Regions from separate parts of the Homo sapiens genome. Here regions 1, 3 and 4 are each linked to region 2. The links come from fine-mapping of genetic effects on gene expression. A gene starts in region 2. Each other region holds a variant in brackets. All regions are shown on one strand. Distances are from middle to middle.

Region 1 (5,151 bases), 27 kb before region 2:
TTATGTTTAAGTTATTAAAAAAAAGTATGTCTGTGTTCTCATCTTAATTATCTACTTAGATATGTTGAACTCTTACTGTGTCACATTAGTTAATATTCATGTGTAGAGATCACCTTTTAAAATGAAATATTTTGCTTTTCTAGCCCTGTATCAAATCAGTCACTTTTATCAGAATCTGTAGCATCTTCTCAATTGGACAGTACATCTGTGGACAAAGCAGTACCTGAAACAGAAGATGTGCAGGGTTTGTATATGAACTAGCATGTATTTTGTTATTTGAGTATTATAGGCCAGACACTATCCTAGGTGCATGTATAAAAAAATTGCCAGCTTAAAATACATGTTTTTCTGTTTTCCCTATGAACACAATACTTTATATCTTTAAGTATTTAATTAACATGTTGGGGAGCCATTTCACACTTACATGTAATTTTATCATCAGCATAAATGTTGCAAATTCAAAATTTGTTTAGTTTGGAAAATATAATTAAATGAATGTGTGGCAGTGTTACACTGTTCTCTTTTACTATTTTGGCCGTTTCAGTCTATATACTACTCTGTAAGAAAACTGGGGCTGCTGGTTTGAGGGGCATCTCTTTCTTTTGTGTTTTGACTCATTATCTGAGAGACTGTGTCCATCGTGCCTGGCAGTTCTCCTTTTTTCTTCCCCATGTGTGCAATAGTCACATTCAGTTGCTCGTATTCACAGCATGGTATCTATCGTGTCTTGCCCATGCTCTTCATATCCCCATTATGAAGCTCAAAGTGATCTAGGAAGACTTGAAAATTTGTATGAAGGCTTTCGTAGTAGGGAGAGAGAATGCGGAGTAGGCCATTTTGGAGGCTATTAAATAATCTCTGCTTAATTAGTTGTATTCTAGCAGTGTGTGGAAATAACATGGTAACAAGGAAGGATCTCTGGAAAGATAAGCCTAATGAAGAGCAGTGTGTCATTCTGCCTGTGAGATGATTTACCAGTGAAACTTCATTGCACATGGTGTTCACATGATGGTAACAGATACATCTGCCAATCCTAGTTTAAGATGGCTAAATTTTTAATTTAGGCCAGGCACTGTGGCTTGTGCCTATAATCCCTACCTACTTGAGAGGCTAAGGCAGGAGGATCGCTTGAGTCTGGGAGTTTGAGACTAGCCTGGACAACAAAAAATTAGCCAGGTGAGGCGGCACATACCTGTAGTCACAACTACTCAGGAAGCTGACGTGGGAGGATTGCTTGAGCCCAGGAATTCAGGCTGCGGTGAGCTATGATCGTGCCACTGCACTCCAGCCTGGGTGGGCACCAGAGCAATTCCCCCACACCCGGTCTCAAGAATTAAATAAACAAATTTAAATAAGCTAGGTAGTTCCTCTTGCTTTTTTTTCATACCCAGCAAATACTTGAACCAGTTTGCTTGTTTGTGTAGATTTTGCCGTAACAAAAGAATATTCTGTGTGGTCAACGTAAATATTCTAGTCCCATCTAGCATATTGTGATAAATTCTTAAATGTTTTAAGTGAATAATTCTTATTTCTTAGTTACATCAAAAAATTTAAGGAAGGGCAGAAATGAGGAATCTTTAAAGAAATAAGGAAAAGACTGGGCGCGGTGGCTCACGCCTGTAATCCCAGCACTTTGGGAGGCTGAAGCGGGTGGATCACGAGGTCAGGAGATCGAGACCATCCTGGCTAACACGGTGAAACCCTGTCTCTACTAAAAATACAAAAAATTAGCTGGGCGTGGTGGCGGGCATCTGTAGTCCTAGCTACTGGGGAGGCTGAGGCAGGAGAATGGCATGAACCTGGGAGGCGGAGCTTGCGGTGAGCCGAGATGGCGCCACTGCACTCCAGCCTGGGCAACAGAGCGAGACTCCGTCTCAAAAAAAAAAAAAATTTAGAATGTTGGCAGTGAAAAAAATGTATAAAGCTTAAGAATACAATAGTATTTAC[A/G]GAAGTTTGACAAAGAATAAAGGTCATAGATTGGTGAACTATCATAACACATAGGAAGTGTTTTTATACCATTTATTTATAAAAGTGTTTTTATTTCCATTTGTGGTGTATGGAAAACAATACCGTTTTCTCCACTTAGCCCTGAGTATATCACTTCAAAAGGTGGTCCTGATGCCATATTAGGAGAAATTGTATAGGCCCCATTTTTCATACATGATTTGAATGACTTTTAGGTTAAACCAGTATTAACTTGTAAGTACCTTTAAAAAACTTAGCATTCGTAATATCAGCAGCAAATCTTTGATAAATTAGGTATAAGTTTCATCTCAGTTTTAAGAGAGGAGGGTTAGGTTCCAGTATGTAAAATCTCTTAACAACCTAGTTTTTAAAAAAAATTTAACATATTATTGAATTAAGAATACCCTTTTTATTATAAACATACACAAATATAAACATGTATGTTTGTATATATGTACGTGTATATTCTGTATGTGCACACACTCATACACTTACATGCAATTACGATTTCCCTATTGATCAAATTCAAATAACTTTTTTTCCATTTATTTAATAGATGGATGAAAAGAGACAGAAAAAGTCTCTTTGAGTCAGTCATATGGTCATAAAAGCTGGAACTGGAATCCAGGGACCTAACTCATAGAGGCCAGTATTCTTATGATTAGACAGTTGTGGAGCTTGTTGGACTAGGATGTGGATATGTGTATTCCTGTTAACACATACATCTCCCTCAGTTCTCAGGGTAGGATCAACTCGTTTAGCAAACTACCCAGGTATCAGTTTTCTTCTTCCTCACTCCATATGCTTCCCTCAAGGGAAATTTATATAGATAGGAAAACCATCCCAAATGGAAGAAGGTATATGAGTAGCAGCTATATGTCTAAGCCAGAAGTTTGTAACATTTTGTAATTGGAACATTCAGAACAACTTTTTCTCTACATGTATTCTGCTTATAATTAGGATATGCTGCCACCAGGTTGGTGGTACTGCTTTCATATTGGCCACATGGCTCTGAAGAATTTTTATGTTTCATTGAGAATTTAGCATATTGAAGCATGTTTCTTAGTTGTTCTTTTTGATTTAAAAATATAGCAGTACCTTACTTACATAGTGTCACTCAGGAGTATAAGTCAAATTTCCAGTTCACAAATGCTAGCTTTTAAAAGAACTACTTTAAGCATTTTGGTACACTCTAAAACTGTTGAAGAATATGCTTAAATTTGGTCAACCTCTTAGTCCCTCAGATCTTGGGTCATAGTAGAAAAATACTGAATTTGGATTCATAAGTTCTATTTTCCTATCTTGGTATGCCTGCTTAACTTCACTGAGCCTTACTTTCATTACTCTTAAAAGAGAATAAGAATGTCCCTCTTACAGGGTATTAAAAGATACTGAGATAATGGAGGTTGGATGAGCTTTGTAAGCTGCAGAAGATATTCTTTATATTGCCCAAGTGATTTGGGAGTTGTAGGAGGCCTAGAGTAAGAGAGAATTTTGAAGCTTTCCAACACTCGAATGATGTCATATGTTAAGATGGTAAGGTCTACATCACTGAAGCATTCTAGGAAAGATGAGTTGATGTTAGAGACCATATAGAGAGAGGAATGCTGTGCTTAGTGACAGGATGAACTAGAATTCTCAGGCTCTTTCCTACTCTGAGGGTTTCTGACTTTATACAAAGTTGAATTGTCAAATCATTGGTTCAGAAAAATCAGAGGGGGACAGTCTCTTTGGACTGATTTAGGAAAGCTGTATGGGTTTTAAAAATCAGGCATTTCTTCTGATTCTAAAGAATGAGTGAGAATAGCCAAAGGTATCTTGAAAAATAACAAAGTTGGAGGACTAACAATTCCTGGCTTCAAAATTGAGTACAAGCTACAGTAATCAAGACTGTGTTGTACCGGCATGAGGATAGTCATGAAGGTAAGTGGAATAAAAAATTGAGAGTCCAGAAATAAACTCTTATTATATTTATGGGCCATTGACTTTCAACAATGGTGCCAAAATCATTTGATGGGAAAAGAGTAATCTTTTAAACAAATGATGCAGGAACAACTTCATATCCACATTCGAAAGAATGAATTGGACTCCTATGTCATACCATATGCAAAAATTCACCCGAAATACATCAAAGACCTAAAACGAATATAAGAGAACTATAAAACTCTTAAAGCAGGTATACATTTTTGTGATCTTGGTTTAGGCAGTGGTTTCTTAGATATGACACCTTAACCACAAGCAGCCAAAGAAATTATAGATAAATTGAGCTACATCAAAATAAAGATTTTTGCTTAAAAGAGTGGAAAAACAGCCAGGTGCAGTGACTTATGCCTGTAATCCCAGCACTTTGGGAGGCCAAGGTGGGCAGATCACTTGAGCTCAAGAGTTTGAAACCAGCCTGGGCAACATGGCAAAACCCCATCTGTACAAAAAATAGCCGAGTGTGGTGGCGCACGCTTGTAGTCCCAGCTACTGGGTAGGGAGGCTGAGGTGGGAGGATCACTTGAACTTGGGATGTTGAGGCTGCAGTGAGCCATTAACGCACCACTGCACTTCAGCCTGGGTCACAGAATGAGACCCTCTCTCAAAAAATAAAAGAGTGGAAAACCAGCCTACAGAATGAGAGAAAAAATACTTTGAAATCATATATGTGATAAGGATATATAAATAATTACAATTCAACAATAGAAAACCCATTTTAAAAATAAGCAAAGGATTTGAGTGGACATTTCTCCAGAAAAGATATACAAGTTTCCAATAAACACATGAAAAGATGCTCAACAGGGCCGGGTGCGGTGGTTCACATCTGTAATCCCAGCACTTTGGGAGGCTGAGGCGGGCGGATCACCTTAAGTCAGGAGTTGGAGACCAGCTTGGCCAACATGGTGAAACCCCATCTCTACTAAAAATATGAAACTTAGCTGGCTGTGATGTCATGCGCCTGTAGTCTCAGATACTCGTGAGGCTGAGGCAGAGGAGAATTGCTTGAACTTGGGAGGTGGAGGTTGCAGTGAGCTGAGATTGTGCCACTGCACTCCAGCCTGGGCAAAAGGGCAAAACTCCATCTCAAAAAAAAAAAAAAAAAAAAAAAAAACCATGCTCAACTTCATTAGATATGAGGGAAATGGAAGTCATGGGACACCACTTCGTATCCACTAGGATGGCTCTAATCAATAACAAAGTATT
Region 2 (5,151 bases):
CAGTGTGTTGCTTTTTAGCATCAGAGGGAGGCATTAAATATGGTGCTACAGAGACCCAAACCAGCCTTCATTGCTGGAGATGCTGAAACTCACTGCGAGTCCTGAAAGTGTTCATACTCTTTGAGTCAGGAATCTTCCTTAGATAATTGTCAAGGAAAAGGAAAACATTCTGTGCATGCACCTCTTCATTGAACCGTTATTATTACCATCTAAAACATTGCGACTTCCTTAGCTAATGACAATGATCATAATAAAGCCTATTGGGCCTCAAGGAAAAATATTCAAGAGAATAAGGTAGGGAAAGACTGAAAAATTGCATCTATGTAAAGTTTATAAGGATGGAAAAGCCATGTGCATACAAATGGAATGAAAAAAAAACATGAAAATGAGAAGACTACATTGGTGGGATTATGGGCAATCTCTTTGTTTTAAAATTCTTTTTAAATAATTGTTGTGATATACGTGGCCAACACATTCTCTTCCAAAAAATGAGAAAGAAAAAATATAGTATACTTGCAAGTTATTTCAAATGCTGTTTTCCAAATAGAGAACAGCTTTGGCGTTTTCAGACACTGTGTATAATTAGTGGGTTGGTTAAGTCTATTTTAAAACTATGAAATCTTACTCCCTCTTTAGCCATCTCATCCCCACACCCTTTCCTACACATACATCTGCCCCATGTCCTTTCCCTAAAATACTTTGGTTTTCTTTCTCCAAGGGTTTTATCATTTAGGCTTTTGTTAACTTGTATGTATTCAGTAGAAGCTCCTGGCCTAGCATCCCCCACACAACACATGCTCCATAAAAACAGGAATTAAAGATGTGAGTTGCTGGTGTATCCCCATGGCCTGGCATAGGGCATGGGCTTATTAGTTATTGCTTCATTTCCTTTTGGTCAACAGTTTTATATTAATGACATGTATTTATGGAGAACCTATTCTGTGCCAGGTGTTTTGCTGGGTATTGACAGAGTTGCACATGGAATAAGAAAGCTCGTGGTTTTAATGGGAAGGGGCAGGGCAACTACAGAACGTGGAAATAATTCATTGCGTTGCAGCTGAGGACTAGCTTGAATTAGGCAGGTATCAAGTGCTCCCTGGAATGCCTCTTTATAAGGCCACCAAGTTGGGATACTCTCCTCTTCTTTTCCTCTTTCAGGAACCTACCAGAACAAATCAGACCACCTTCATTCCCTCCCCAGGGCTGACTTAAAAGAACTGAAGCCAGTCCTTGGCAGAGCCACTCAGGGCAGGAGATGAGAGCCAAGAGGCTGTGCCCAGATTACACTCCTTACTGGGTGATGATCACTGGTCACGCCTGGTGGACAGGCACCAGAGTGATCTCAGGGGCTAGGAAGGGGGGCTCAACAGCGGGCCCTGCTTGCCGTACTCGCTCCTCTCAAGCCGTCTGGTTTCAAGCCCACTTAGCTCACATTATCCTGCCATCTTCCAGCCTCTTCTCCCTAAGCTGAAATGCGGAGCAGCCTCCCTAACTCAGCAGTCACTGTGTCACATTCCTCAAGGATCTTCAGGGAACCCTTGCCCAGACTATCGTCTACTTTTCTAGATTTCAGCCGGCATCCTGGCTGTTTAAAAGTGTACCTGAATCATTCACACCAACAATAACACAACGACACACTCTCCGGTGTGTTCCAAGTGTCCTGGCTGTGGCATGGTCTCAAAAAACTGCAGCTGACTGCACATGAGTGATTAGATAACACCTTGAACCCACCCTAAGATAGTCTGCCTTTCCCTTCTTTCCTGTCTTCCTTCTTTTCTTTCTCCCTCTCTCTCTTCTCCTATTTCTCTTTTATCTTTCCTTTCCTTTATCCCCCTCCCCTCCTTTCCTCTTTTTCCCTCCCTTCTCTCTCTTTCCACACACACATAACCTGTATATGCCAGGCACTATTCTAGGTGCTTCACAAATATTAATTCATTCCATTCTTATATCAACTTTGTGAAGTAGGAACTATTATCATCAACATTATACAGAGAAGGAAGCTGAGGTAGAGAAAGTTTAAGTAACTTGTCCAAGGTTGAGCATCTTGTCAACGTCATTTTACTACTGGCATGTGAAACAGGTGAGTTATATTTTTTAGAATATTAATTCTCATTAATTGAAGCCTTCCAAACAGGCCTAACTGTCCCCTTCTCTGACATACAAGTGGAAGTGTCATAGCTGGACGGAGCATCATGGTATGAAGGCAGAAAGGACGCGACTGGGTGTTCTTCTGAAGCTCAGGGAGCAGCTCTTGGGGAGAAAGTGTTTCCAGGAAGCGGACAAGAGTTCTGTTGAGCTGAAGAGCAGGGCAGCAGCCGGGGCGAGCGAGGCTGGAGTCATGCAGGGCAGAGCCTTAAATGCTAAGCTGGGGTTTGCTCTCGGTAGGACCAGCTAGCTGCCCCGAGCGGGGGCTGGAACCAGATCTCCCCCACGTGGACTCGCGGACAGGGCGGGGATCAGGACGGGGGCGGGGCCAGGGGAGGGGCGGGGCTCGGGGAGTGAGGCAAGACTGGAGGGCCTGGGACTCTCGGGTACCCGGGCCAGGGGAGGGGCGGGGCTCAGGGAGGGAGGGAGAGACTGGATGACCTGGGGCTTGCAAGGCGGGGCGAGGGGAGGGGCGGGGCGAGGGGAGGGGCGGGGCTCAGGGAGGGAGGGTGAGACTGTGGAGGACCTGGGGCTCGCGGGGTCGGGGCAAGGGGAGGGGCGGGGCTCAGGGAGGGAGGAGAGACTGGAGGACCTGAGGCCCACGGGGGCGGGGCCAGGGGCGGGGCGGGGCTCTGGAAGGGCGGGCGAGACTGTGGAGGACCTGGAGCTGGCGGGGGTCAGGGTAGGGGGGAGGGGCAGGGCTCGGGGTTCGGGGGCGGGGTGTTCACGGTGAGACCAAAAGTCAGGTAGGAGCCTCCGGGGTCCCTGCTGTGTCACCCGGACAGGCCGTGGGGGCGGGCAGGGGGGCGGGGCCGGGCCTGACCACAGCGGCCGAGTTCAGTCCTGCTCTCCGCACGCCACCTTAGGCCCGCAGCCGTGCCGGGTGCTCTTCAGCATGTCCTTCATCCCGGTGGCCGAGGATTCCGACTTCCCCATCCACAACCTGCCCTACGGCGTCTTCTCGACCAGAGGCGACGTGAGCAGTGGGGCTTTGGCGTCCGGGCGCGGGGAGGGAGTGGAGTGGAGTGGAGTGGAGTGGAGTGGAGTGGAGTGGAATGGAGTGGAATGAGGGGCGGGATGGAGGCTTGTGCCATTTTTCTCTTAAGATTCGTTCCGTGAGAGTGCCTATGGGCTCGAGTCCCGCCTCGTAACTTTCTAGCTGTGCACGTTGTTTAACTTTTCAGCCTCATTGTCCGCAGGTTTGCTGAGAATTAAATGCAAAATGAAATGAATCGTGTCACTCTCCCAGACAAGCAGAGCAAGCAGGATTCTGTTACCGGAAGCTGCAGCACACAGGCATGCTGCCTACTCCGAGGTGGTTGCGGTGTGTTTCTCTCGCCCAAGAGGCCAGGTCAGGGCTGGTGGTTCATCTCGCTGGATAGCCCCTAACCCTAGAACCCGGGAAATGATAACCCGGTATGCGTAGCAGGTCAGAGGGGCACGCGCGTTTCTTGGCTTAGAGTTGTGAGATCTAAGATGGCAAGTGTCTCTGCCTATAGCTGAAATTCTTTCAGCTCCTGGTGTGGGCTCCCTGGCATTCCCCTACTGATCAGAAGAAAGAGGGCAGGGAAACAAACTTTGACTAAGTCAGTGTAGTCTGATTGGTAGAAAGAAGTATTTGAAAACTGGGGGTTTATCAGCAAATAGATAATAAGAGGTTCCCTAGGTTGGAAAAGCAGATTCCCTTGGATTTGTTGATGATATTTTTGGCTTAGATTTCTGCTCCCAACTTTAAAGGTAAACTCCTGATTCATCTCTGTAAGCCATAGAACCCCAGAATCAGGAAATGTTTGCTAAACGAGGGGCCTGGCAGTTGGCTTCTTCTTGGAAAGTGGGGTTCCCTCCTTCCCCCATGGCTTGTCATTGGATGCAAGTGGCTGGCCTTTTGTGGGCCTGTCTGCGGTAAGTGCTTTGGTCTAGAAGAGTCAACTTGTGGTTTCACATCTGGCCGGGCTGACCAGATGTTGCAAGGATACAGAAAGTGGACACTCAATCCCCTGGAGGACACAATCTGAGGCACATTAAATCTTAACTTGTGATGGCCAACAACCTTTCTGCAGACAGAGCCCTCCCTCTGCCCTCCTCAAACACTTTGCCCTCGGCAGATGTGTCCTCCCTCACCTTTCCTGGGAGCACAAATCCATTAGACAGAAACATTTGTGAGAGGCAGGCACACCCCAGTAGGGAGCTCTGACTTGCTTTCTCAGGGGAATCGAATTAATATCCGTTAGAGTGTGGCTAGGTGTTTTCAGACACCATGTCCCGCTGTTTCAACATCAGAATGTGCAGGGCAGCCACTACAGATGTCTGGAAGAGAGAGCCCCATTCCGCTGTCCTCTGATACAGTGCTGGGGGTGGAGAGTTGGCCCTTTGGCCTTCCAGCTGAACAAGCCTCTTCTGAAGCTTTCTCTGCAGGCATTGGACATTCCAACCGTGATGGCTGCCTTGCCAGGCAAGACTAGTTGCCAAGGCAAAACCTCCCTTCCCCCATGTCAGCAGTCAGCCTTTCCTAATTTGAGTGGAATAACAATGAATCCTGCCATCACTTTATTCATTTTTTTTTATTCAGCGAATGCTTATGAACCCCAACTCTGGTCCAGATTTTGCCTGGGCTCCGAGTTGGCATCAAAGACACAGGAGACGCCTTCCTTCCATTTCTGGTTGATGGACTAGTAAGGTGTACAGGGGTGCTCTCTGTGAAGGTAGGGGTGGTGGCCTCTGAGAACGGGGTTGTAGTAGTGTGGAGCTGGTTTTGCCGGGTGCCTTGTTAAAGTCCCCGTGGTCTGGCTGTGCTGCTGCCTCCTGGCCTCTGCTTTCTCCAGCCACATTGGCTGCCTTTGAGTCTCTGAGATGTGCTAAGAGCAGCTTCCTGCCTTCAGGCCTTAGCACATGTTGTTCCTTCTGCCTGGAATACTCGTCCTTCTGCTCTCTATATGCTTGGCCCCTTCTCACTCTTTGGGACTCAGCTTAAATGTCACCTCCTAAGCACCCTCTCTGAATGAGCTC
Region 3 (5,151 bases), 33 kb after region 2:
TTCTGCAATGCTTGCCAGACCTACCGCAGGCCTTTGGTCACGGTTCTGTGGATTGAGTGAAAGCATTTTCTGAAGTTTTGATTTGGGGAAAGGAAGGAAAGAGATGGTGGCAGAAGAGAAAATGATGGCTTTAACTCTCTGTTGTCAGTGTGATAAGGGCCCCTGACTAAGCCATGCTAGACCAGGCAGCTGTCCAGGGCCTGGGAGAAAGGAGGCTGGTATCTAGCAGTTGGAATGCACATGTGTTCTTGACATTTGAGCCAGAGAAGGAAGGAGAAAGGAGCCAAGATGCCATGAGAGTCATTTCCATGTTTGTTTGTGTATACAACGCCTTACTCCGGAAGGATTTTTGGAGGCCAGCAGAGGAATTCAGGGAAAGGCAGTTCCTTGGATCTGAAGAAGCACATGTTGGCAAGTGAAGAGGGAAATGGGAACAGATGGGCAAAATCCCCTGGAACCAAGAAAGAAGAATTATAATTTGCTAAGAGGAGAGGCATACATTATGTGTTCATAAAAAGAAAAAAGAGAATTTCATACAGAAGGGGACCACTGAAAAACTCAAAAGAATGCATATTGCTAGAATTTGGGCTAAGCAGGGGGTAAGCAGAGGAGCGGGCAGGTGGAGGTGGTGTGTCAGCTGTGTTACCTTGTGCAAAGGTTCCCCGCATTGGCGGACGGCTCTGCCCTCACCTTCTACGACTTCACTGGTCACGTGGCCCTGCTGAGCTGCTTTCTTGCTTGAAAGCCACACATGGTTTCTTCAGCTCTTCCCGGCTTTCCTCCTCCTTCTCTGCACCTGCTCAGATGCCTTTATGGCTGCCTCTCATTTCCCTGCTTGCTCTTCACGGATGCTCCTTCCCCAAATCAATTTCTAACCATTGGAAACGCGATAGAACATTCAGAAGTGCTGGCATCAGCCAACGCCGCAGCACTTACTGCAGGCCAGACACTGTGCCAAGTGCTTTACCTGCAATACATTTTCTATTCCAAACAAGGCAGCTACTCTTACTGTCTCTATTTTTCAGATGTGGAAACTGAGGCCCAGAAAGATGCATACTTACCCAGGATCACACAGGCGATAAAGGGTAGAGCCAGGGTTTGAACACAGGCAGTTGGGCTCCAGGAGCTGTGCTCTGAACCCTTGTGTCCTGTTGCCTCTTTAAATGGCGCGATGAAATTCTCATTTCTGAGAGAGTCCAAAAACCACAAAATGTTCAGCAAGAGAACAGGTGAAGTAAACAAACCAAAAATATCAACAAAAATCTCTGATCGTCTTGGTTTAACTCATCCATCCCCTAGTCTCGCTCACAAACCCCATCTGGTGTTGAGCTTGCAACTTGCAAGGATGTGTTCTCGCAGGCATTTGCACGGATGGCTCTGCACTGCTGGACACATGCATTTCTCACTCTCCTTCAGATCTTTGATTTGTTGATAGTTATGATTTGTTGTGGATTCTTTCTTGGTATCTGACATTATTTGGAAACAATATCTGAGCAAAAGTCTTTCGTTTCTTGCCCTGCGTCTCTCAGTGGTGGCGTCTTTCACCTGGTGTTCCTGTGTCTCTGTTTATTCCAGTTTCTCTCCCCAGCATTATTGCTTGCCTTGCCTGGCACAGAATTCCTGCGCAAGGCTGACCAGGGGTCCCAGGGTGTAGAAGCAGTGACCCTTCTCCTTCAGGACCATGGTTGGGAGAGACTCTTTAAAAATGCTGCAGTTCCGAGTTAGTTGTTTTGATAGATGTTTAATAAATTTCTGCTGGGAGCCAGTTTTACTTTAATAGGCTTTTTTTTTCACCCCAGTGGTGTGGATATTTCTGAGCATTGAGGTGGAAAAGAGACTGACAGAAAATAATGAAAATGAGCAACAGAATAGGTGAGGTCGTTGCTCTCGACAAAGGGCATCCCTGCATGTTGTCAGCATGTGGGTCACGGGGCTTCTTAGGGCCCCCCAAAGGACAGCCTCACTGAACAGATGTGACAAATGCATCTCGTGCCTGAGTGTCTGAGCCTTTGCACGTGTTCTTCCCTCTGTCTGGAATGGCATTTTCATGTGTCTTCCCTAATGAACTCCTAGCTACCCGTCAAGGCCCAGCTAAGATATCCCCCCTTCCTGCTCCCTTTCCCTCCATGCTGCTCGCTCAGCACCTTGTAAGCATTTCTCTGTATCTCTCGTCTGGACCTCCCACTCCCTCTAAGTGGACCCCTCTCAAGGGCAGAGATGGGCTTCTCTCTGCTTTTCCATCATCCTTGTTGAAATGGAATTAAATGAAGGAAACTAATATTTATTAGTTTCTGAGATGTGCTGGGAATTTCACTGAAATATTTAGTCTAATCCTTACAACCTTGAGAGATAAGCGTTGTTTTTCTTGTTTGCAGATGAGGGAGGTGAGTTCTGAAGTCAAACAGCTTGTTCCCAGCCACCCAGCTCATAATGGTTGTAATGACTGACACTTACAGGGAATTTCAAATAGGGACTGGAGGCTGTTCTCAGAGTTTTCTATGCATTTGCTCCCATCATCCTTGCAGCAGTCCTGTGCGGTGGGCACTATCATAAGATCCATTGCACAGATGAAGAAACTGAGGTCTAGAGGGACCCAAGGTTACAGAGCCAATAAGTAGAGGAGCCAGGCTTTGACCTCAGGCATTCTGGCTTCAGGCTAATTGGCAGAGCGAGGATTTGAACCCAAACCCATGTGGGGAGAGTTGACCACTGTATTAGTCTGTTTTCACACTGCTGATAAAGACATTCCTGAGACTGGGTAATTCATAAAGAAAGAGAGGTTTAATGGACTCACAGTTCCACATGGCTGGGGAGGCCTCACAATCATAGTGGAAGGCAAAAGGCATGTCTTACATGGTGGCAGGCAAGAGAGAATGAGAGCCAAGTGAAAGGAGAAACCGCTTATAAAAACATCAGATCTCATGAGACTTCTTCACTACCATGAGAACAGTATGGAGGAAACCGCTCCATGATTCAATTATCTCCCACTGTGTACCTCCCACAACACATGGGAATTATGGGAGCTATAATTCAAAATGAGGTTTGGCGGGGGACAGAGCCAAACCATATTAGCCACAGGAAAGCTGTTGAGCCTTGCAGTGC[C/T]TCTGAGGATCCCTGGCTGTGGGGTGGGCCCGGGTTCTAGTCCAAGGGCTCCTGCGTGCAACTCTGCCCAGCTTCCGTGGAGGGTTATTCTTGTGTTTAAGATATGTGTGTGTGATTCTGATGGCACCTTCCTGCCTCGGGCCAGCTGTGTGCTGACGGGCACTGCCGCTGCCTAGGTGTTGGTTCCGGTGAGCCCAGCAACTTTGTGACTGATCCTTGTCCTCCTCTGTTCCAGGGTACTGCCAGGGGGATGGTTACCGCATCGGCTTTGGCCAGTGTGCTGGAAAAGTGCTGCCTGCTCTCCTGCCATCATGAGATTTTCTCTGCTCTTCTGGAAACAAAGGGCTCAAGCACCCCTTTCAACCCTGTGACTGGGGTCCTCCCTCGGGCTGTAGGCCTGGTCCGCCATTCAGTGACAAATAAAGCCATTGTGCTCTGAGGCCTGCACTGCCGCAGATGCAGCTGTGTCCACTTATGATCGTGATTTGATCCAGTGGGTCAAGGTGTGTAAAGCCTCCCTGCCAGATATTCATTAATATGTTTTCTCACTCTTATTAGTGAGGTCAGGGGTCTTTGTGGGATTTTCTTATTAGACATCCCAGGCCTCCTGGTATTCCATGGAATTTGAAAAGAGACTGGCACCTGTAGTAGTCAGGGCTCTCCAGAGAAATAGAACCAAGGAGAAAGAGATCGATTTATTGATTGATTGATTGATTTTAAGCAAATTGGCTTCTGGGATTCTGGAGGGTGGCAAGCCCAAAACCTGCTGGGTGGGTTGCTGGCTGGAGACCCAAGGAAGAGCTGCAGTTTGAGTCTGAAGCAGTCTGCTGTCAAAATTTCCTCTTCCTCTGGGAAGTGAGTCATTGTTTGGTGAAGGCCATCAACTGATTAGATGAGGCCCAGCCACACTGTGGGGGTCTTCTGCTTTACTCCACTGATTTAAGTTTTATTTCACCTAAAAAGTACTTTCTTAGAAACATGTAGAATAGCATTTGAGCAAATATTTGGGTACCTTAGTCTAGCCAAATTAATACAGAAAACTGCCCATCACAGCACCCTGCATGTCCAGTGTTTCTTGGGGCTAACGGATGAGCACATATGGGTTGTAGGCTTGGTTCATGGGCCCCGTGGCTGCGTCTCCACACTGTAAGCCTTGGGAAGAGCCTCCGAGTCATGGGTGAGCACCTGAACTGTGATGATGGCAGAAAAGGACCTAGCTTTTCACCTCTTGCAAGCCCACCAGAGTCAGGAGAGTGAGCTCTGCCCCATCTCTTCTGTCCCAACCCATTGCACACAGGCAGCCCTGGTTCTACCCTAGTTCCTTGGTGATGACAGCAGGGGAGTATGCCCTGCGACCTTTCCTGGGCCTGATGAGCCTTATACCGGGGCCTAGGGGGATAGTTGAGGATGCAGAGCCCATCCGTCAGATCGCACCATTCATTCATTCACTCAACAAATCTTTATTGAGCACCTTCTGTGTGTTAAGCACTGTTCTAAGGATGAGAGGCACAGCAGTAAACAGAATAGCCCATTTGAAGCTTACATTCGAGTGGAAAGAGATAGACAATAAACAGATAAGGAAAAGACATGTGGTATGACAGATGGTAATAAGTTTTATGGACAATTGGGAGATGTGGATGCTATTGTTAATGTGGTTAGAGAAGGCCTTAATCCCATAGTACATTTCTGCTAGAGAGCTGAAGGAGTGAGGGGAGCAGGCCAGATGGATATCTGGGGACAGAGTCCTCCAGGCACAGGAATCAGCCCGTGCAAAGCCCTGAGGATGGAATATGCTTATCATTTCTAAAGAACATCAAGGAGGCTGGTATTTCTTCCTTACATAAAAGCAACCTGGGGTCAGGAAGGCTGGAGTTAGTGTGGCAGCTGCACAGTGTCATTAAAGATACCTCTGCTCTGCCATCGTCGGTATGTGGTTTTTAGTCTCAGGGTTACATTATGATACAAAATGGCTGCTGGAGCTCCAACTAGTACATCTAAGTTCCAGGCCAGCAGAAAGAGACAACAAAGAGGTGAGGACTGGGAGGATGG
Region 4 (5,151 bases), 24 kb after region 2:
CCCCAACTCATAGAATGCAGCTTGGAGCCCAGCAACAGGGAGTCCCTGCAGCCTCTGGTTCCCGGCACCGCTTGGTCTACCACTGGGTCTAGGCCTTGACCCCTGGTTCCAGTCCTCCCTTCTCAGCCTGTTGCAATCTGCCCCACTCCATCACTGGCAACACCTGGCCAGAGTCACCTGTGACCCGATAGTCAGTGTCATGACCTTGTGTCCCCTTCAGCATGGACTTCCTGTGGCCCCTCACTCTTGTTGGCATTCCCTCACCCCTTGGTTTCTGGCATGTGACCTGTCCTCGTTCTCCAGTGTCTCTGAGTCCTCACGATGCCCCTCTCCAATTCTGACCTCCCTGTGGGGATCCAGGCTGAGCTCCCAGCCATTTGCACATCCTCGCTTGAGCATCTCACCACGCATTTGCTGGGGGCCTCTACCAACACCCGGTGCTGGTCCTGCACCCACACTGCTCTCCCATGCTCCTCTGCCTCTGGGGTCATCTCATGTTTGCTGTGCTACAAACAACCCTGAGGTCTTTCCTTGCAAGCCAGTTCTAGTGAAGTCCTGTGGGGCTTTCACCCTCATCCCTTGCTCTCTCCTCGCTGCTCCCTACCACAGCACCCCCTGCCCACCCTGGTCATTTTCAGTCGCCAGGACTTGACTTTCTCTCTAGCTGGCAGCGGCCTTGTCTAGTCTCCCTAGGGCTGCAAGGCCACAGCCTCTCTTTGCTTGTCCTCCAGTCATCTGCCTTCTTCCGGGTCGGTCATCACAGGGTTTTGCCTGCCTTCCTCTGTGCCAGCCCTTCCCCAACACCATTTAGGTACAACACTACTATTCCCCCTCTGAACTATTATTTACTTAATGTTTTCCTTCAGAGTGGCTCCCAGTTTAAACTTAATATATTAAGAAGGGAACTTTATATTCCTACTGGCATCACTAGCTACACTGTTTCATAACCATTAGTATCACCAAAAACGATCTCATGTCCCGTGGGTGACTCATGTACCATGCTTTGGAAAACACTGCTTTTGGCCGGAGTGCAGGCGTTCTGGCCCAGCCATCCAAGCTGCCTCCCTAGCTGGCTCCAGCACCAGCCAGGGCTGTCTACTTCTGTTGTGACCCCTCTGCCTTCCAGGGGCCCTGCAATGCGCTTTCAGGCCCAGCCTTTCCTCACAGGCCAGGCTTTGTTCTCCATCTCGGCCTGTCTGCTGCCCACCTTCCCTTTCTCTCCCCTCCTGTGGCTTTCAGGAACATCTCTGGTTTGGCTCCTGTGACCTTTGACCTGCTGATGCCCCTTCCTTGGCTGCATTTCCTAGAGACCCACAGTATGATCCCCCCTACTGCTATCCAGGGACACAGTGCTGGGTCCCTGGAGAGGGAATGCTCCTGCTGTCTCAGACCCTCTGCCTAGGGGAGCAGGTGCTGCTGGGGGCCTGGCTGGTATGGGGGCCCAGCCGGGTGAGCTCAGCCCACCTGCCAGTGACCTCTGTGCTGTGCTTTGCCCTCTCAGGACCCCAGGCCCCTGCCGTATCTGTGCCATGACGAGCCCTACACATTTGACATCAACCTCTCTGTTAACCTGAAAGGTATGTTGTAGGGGGACTGACATGGCCAGGAGCTCTGAGGCAATGTGTGCCTGTGTGCCTTGTCCTGAAGGCTCCTGAGCTTTGGCAAGGGTGAGGGCACGTGCTACAGCCCTGGAGATGTGTGTGGCTCGTCTAAAGGAAAGAGGAGGGGAGGGGAGGGGACACCCTGGTGCTCACTGGGAACCTAACTGGGCCCATAGGGCATTAACCCTGTCACTGAGCTCTCAGTGGTAGGGCTGAAAGGATGGAGTCCGGGACTTCCATCTTCTGCTTGAATCCCCTCCCCAGCCTCTCCAGGGGCTGCCTGGCTCCTGCTCACATATCGCCACTGACCCTCACTTCCGTGGTGGGTGGCACATTTCATTGAGTGCCTGTTTGAAAGCATGTCCTTGTGGGTCTGTTCGCTTGGCTGAGCCCCTGGGGCCACACAGAGCCAGCGCATCAAGACCCCAGATTCCCACCATGGGCCAGCCCTGAGTGTCTTGCAGACAGACCCGAGATCCCCACCCTGGGCCAGCCCTGACATAGACAGGGCCCACATCTCCCTGTGGCTGCTCAGCCCGCCTCCGCGAACAGGCCCAATGGGGCGTTGGTAATAAAGAGACTGGCTCTGCAGGCCATGACTCTGCTGCTCAGCTGTGGGACTTTGGGCAAGTTGCCAAACCTGGCCATGTCCTCATTTGTCATCTATGAAATGGGATAATAGCGGCGTTGACCTCATGGTGTGTTGTGAGGACCAAACATGTCAATTCATGCAAAGGTCTGGGACAGGGTCTGTACCTAGAAAGAGTCAGGTGTCATTTTCCAATCCCAACGGGGGCCCTCGGATGGGGAGGGTTTGCCTGGTGGCCACACACAGACCTCCTAGCCACACTCTGGCCAAATCTCCTTTTTAGCTCCATTCCATTCCTTTTTCTTTTCTTTTCTTCTTTTTTTTTCCCCCGAGATGGAGTTTCACTCTTCTTGCCCAGGCTGGAGTGCAATGGTGCGATCTTGGCTCACCACAACCTCTGCCCCTGGGTTCAAGCGAGTCTTCTGCCTCAGCCTCCTGTGTAGCTGGGATTACAGGCATGCGCCACCATGCCTGGCTAATTTTGTATTTTTAGTAGAGATGGGGTTTCTTCATGTTGGTCAGGATGGTCTTGAACTCCTAACCTTAGGTGGTCTACCCACCTAGGCCTTCCAAAGTGCTGGGATTACAGG[C/T]GTGAGCCACCATGCCCGGCCAGCTCCATTTCTTTCTTCTGTCTGCTCTGTCTGTACACTCCAGGCTTTGCCATGTCTGTCTCACTGTCAGTTCCAGGGTCTCGGCCCTTCATGAGGTGGTTCCTGTCAGGAGGCGCAGTACACTGCAGGAGCTGTCGCCATGGGAGCAGGATGCTCCATGGAGAAAGAGCTGTCACAGAGAGCCTCCTGGCTGCCCAGGGCCCTCTGGGAAGCTGTGCTGGGCCCGCTCTTTCAGGTTCCAGGTCAGGAAGCTGAGGCTCAGAGAGGAAAAGGATTCACCCCGAGCCACCTACCTGGCTAATGGCAGGGCTGGGACTCAATCCAAGTGTGTCACAAGTTCTAGGTTGGCCTCCTGCCACCCACAATGCGTGCTTGGAGTATACTTTCTATCTGGTTTTGTCCTCAGTATTCCTGGCTGCCTAGAGGTGAACCTGCCCGCCCGGGGGAGGCCACTGGTAGAAAAGGGACAAGATTATCCAGAAAGCACAGTGTCCAGAGATGTAGTCCTGCATTTGCAGTTCTGATGTTCTGAGTTGGGATCTGGGCGAAAGGGTCTGGGGAGGAGCAGCCTTGGCAGACCCAGACCTCGCATGGCTGAAGAGCACACCTGTTCTGTGCCACCTCAGAGGGGAAGTTAGGACCAAGGGAGGAAGCCAGGTTTTGAGGGAGCAGAGGAGCTTTCTACTTATTAGTGCTGTTCAGAAGTGGAACGGCAACAGCCCGGTACCTTGCATGTAGTAGATGTTTAGTAAATATTGTTTAGTACGTTGTGAAGTAGCACACTGCCCATCACTGGAGGAGCTCGGCAGGGGACAGATGACCCAGCTATCCAGAGGACTCCTGAGGGGACAGCAGGTTATCCTTGATCAAAGGTCACAAGTAGCTTTCAAATGGCACACTATCTTTAGTGGATTTGCGGGTGCCAGGATCACTGTGTTAAGAAGGATTCTGAGGCTACATATGGACTCAGAGCAAACATGTGCTGTGATCAATTAATGCTGCCTGCTGTAGGCGTGGGAGGAGGAAGTGATGACTTGTGTGCATGTATTGGCCAACCCTGGACCTCCCAGCTCTGATGTCCTAGGAGCTAATTGTTTCACAGACTCTAAGTGAAATCATGTTGGACAATGGGAAGCTTCAGCCACAGAACAATTCTTTTTTTATTTTCCTCCCTGATGCATGGAATTAAGTTTTCATCAATATTGCTTTTCTTTCCAACAGGAGAAGGAATGAGCCAGGCGGCTACCATATGCAAGTCCAATTTTAAGGTAAGCTTTGACGCTGATCAGACTGCTTTTTAGAATTGAGGGAAAGAGAGACTTTTCTTCCTGGCAGGAACAGGAGGAGAGCATTCCTTTTGGGATATGATGATGGGTCAGCCTGTGGGCCTGGAGCTTCCATGGCCTGTCTCTTTTAGGAGTGGCCATGGGGTCACAGAGTTCTCTCGAGATAGAGGCTGCATAAATGTGGCCAGTGATTTTCTTGGGGGAAAATAGGTGTTCCTGTAAAGGTCTAGTTCCTGGTTTATCCTGTCCTGCCAGGGGCTGTATTGATGAGAGTGACTTATTTTTTAAGTGAACTTTTAATTGAAGCATAATATACATAGATAAAAATGCACACATTACTGTAATCCCAGCACTTTGGGAGGCCAAAGTGGGAGGATCGCTTAAGCCTAGGAGTTTGAGACCAGCCTGGGCAACATAATGAGACCTTGTCTCTGCAAAAAGTAAAAAAATTAGCCGGGCGTGGTAGCATGCACCTGTGGTCCCGGCTACTTGGGAGGCTAAGGCAGGAGGATCGCTTGAGCCCAGGAGGTCGAGGCTGCAGTGAGCCATGATCACACCACTGCATTCCAGCATGCGTGACAGAGCAAGACCCTATTTCAAAAAATAAAAATTAAAAAAAGTGCATATTATACATGTACAGCTTGAAGAATTTTCCTAAAATGAACATCCCTGTGCAACCAGCACCCAGATCAGAAATGGAAAATTTCCAGCACCTCAGCAGCCCCGTGGGGCCCTCCAGGTCACTTCATCACTCCCTCCAGCAAAGGTCACTCCTCTCCTGACCTCTGCTACCATGTATTATTTTTTTTCTGTTTTTCAGTTTTATAGAAATGGCATCATAAAGTAGCATGTATTCTTTTGTAGCTGGCATCTTTGTTTTAGTGTTAGATCTGTGAGATTCAACCCTGTTGCTCTTTGCAGTGACAGCTCATTTTTCTCATTGCCTTATAGTGTTGCACTGTATAAATATTCCACAACTGACTTAATTTTTTTTTTTTTTTGAGATGGAGTCTCGCTCGTTGCCCAGGCTGGAGTGCAGTGGCGCGATCTCGGCTCACTGCAAA

The links.
Region 1: its variant is fine-mapped to the expression of FAH in whole blood (TOPMed, PIP 0.93).
Region 3: its variant is fine-mapped to the expression of FAH in whole blood (INTERVAL, PIP above 0.99).
Region 4: its variant is fine-mapped to the expression of FAH in whole blood (TOPMed, PIP above 0.99).

The regions. Positions count from the first base shown.
Region 1 is chr15:80,122,557-80,127,707 of GRCh38, forward strand. It overlaps ZFAND6 (zinc finger AN1-type containing 6), which reads left to right. Exons shown (of 7, transcript NM_019006.4): 5 at 144-244. Among named protein-coding and RNA genes, the nearest start is that of FAH, 28 kb to the right of the region's middle. The variant A/G (reference allele first, on the strand shown) is at 1,948.
Region 2 is chr15:80,150,015-80,155,165 of GRCh38, forward strand. FAH (fumarylacetoacetate hydrolase) reads left to right here and starts at 2,985. Exons shown (of 14, transcript NM_000137.4): 1 at 2,985-3,121. The coding sequence starts at 3,041. RefSeq lists a silencer at 2,414-2,973.
Region 3 is chr15:80,182,793-80,187,943 of GRCh38, forward strand. It overlaps FAH (fumarylacetoacetate hydrolase), which reads left to right. Exons shown (of 14, transcript NM_000137.4): 14 at 3,338-3,557. The coding sequence ends at 3,417. Among named protein-coding and RNA genes, the nearest start is that of FAH, 32 kb to the left of the region's middle. RefSeq lists an enhancer at 3,375-3,875. The variant C/T (reference allele first, on the strand shown) is at 3,103.
Region 4 is chr15:80,173,515-80,178,665 of GRCh38, forward strand. It overlaps FAH (fumarylacetoacetate hydrolase), which reads left to right. Exons shown (of 14, transcript NM_000137.4): 10 at 1,502-1,577; 11 at 4,023-4,069. Among named protein-coding and RNA genes, the nearest start is that of FAH, 23 kb to the left of the region's middle. The variant C/T (reference allele first, on the strand shown) is at 2,781.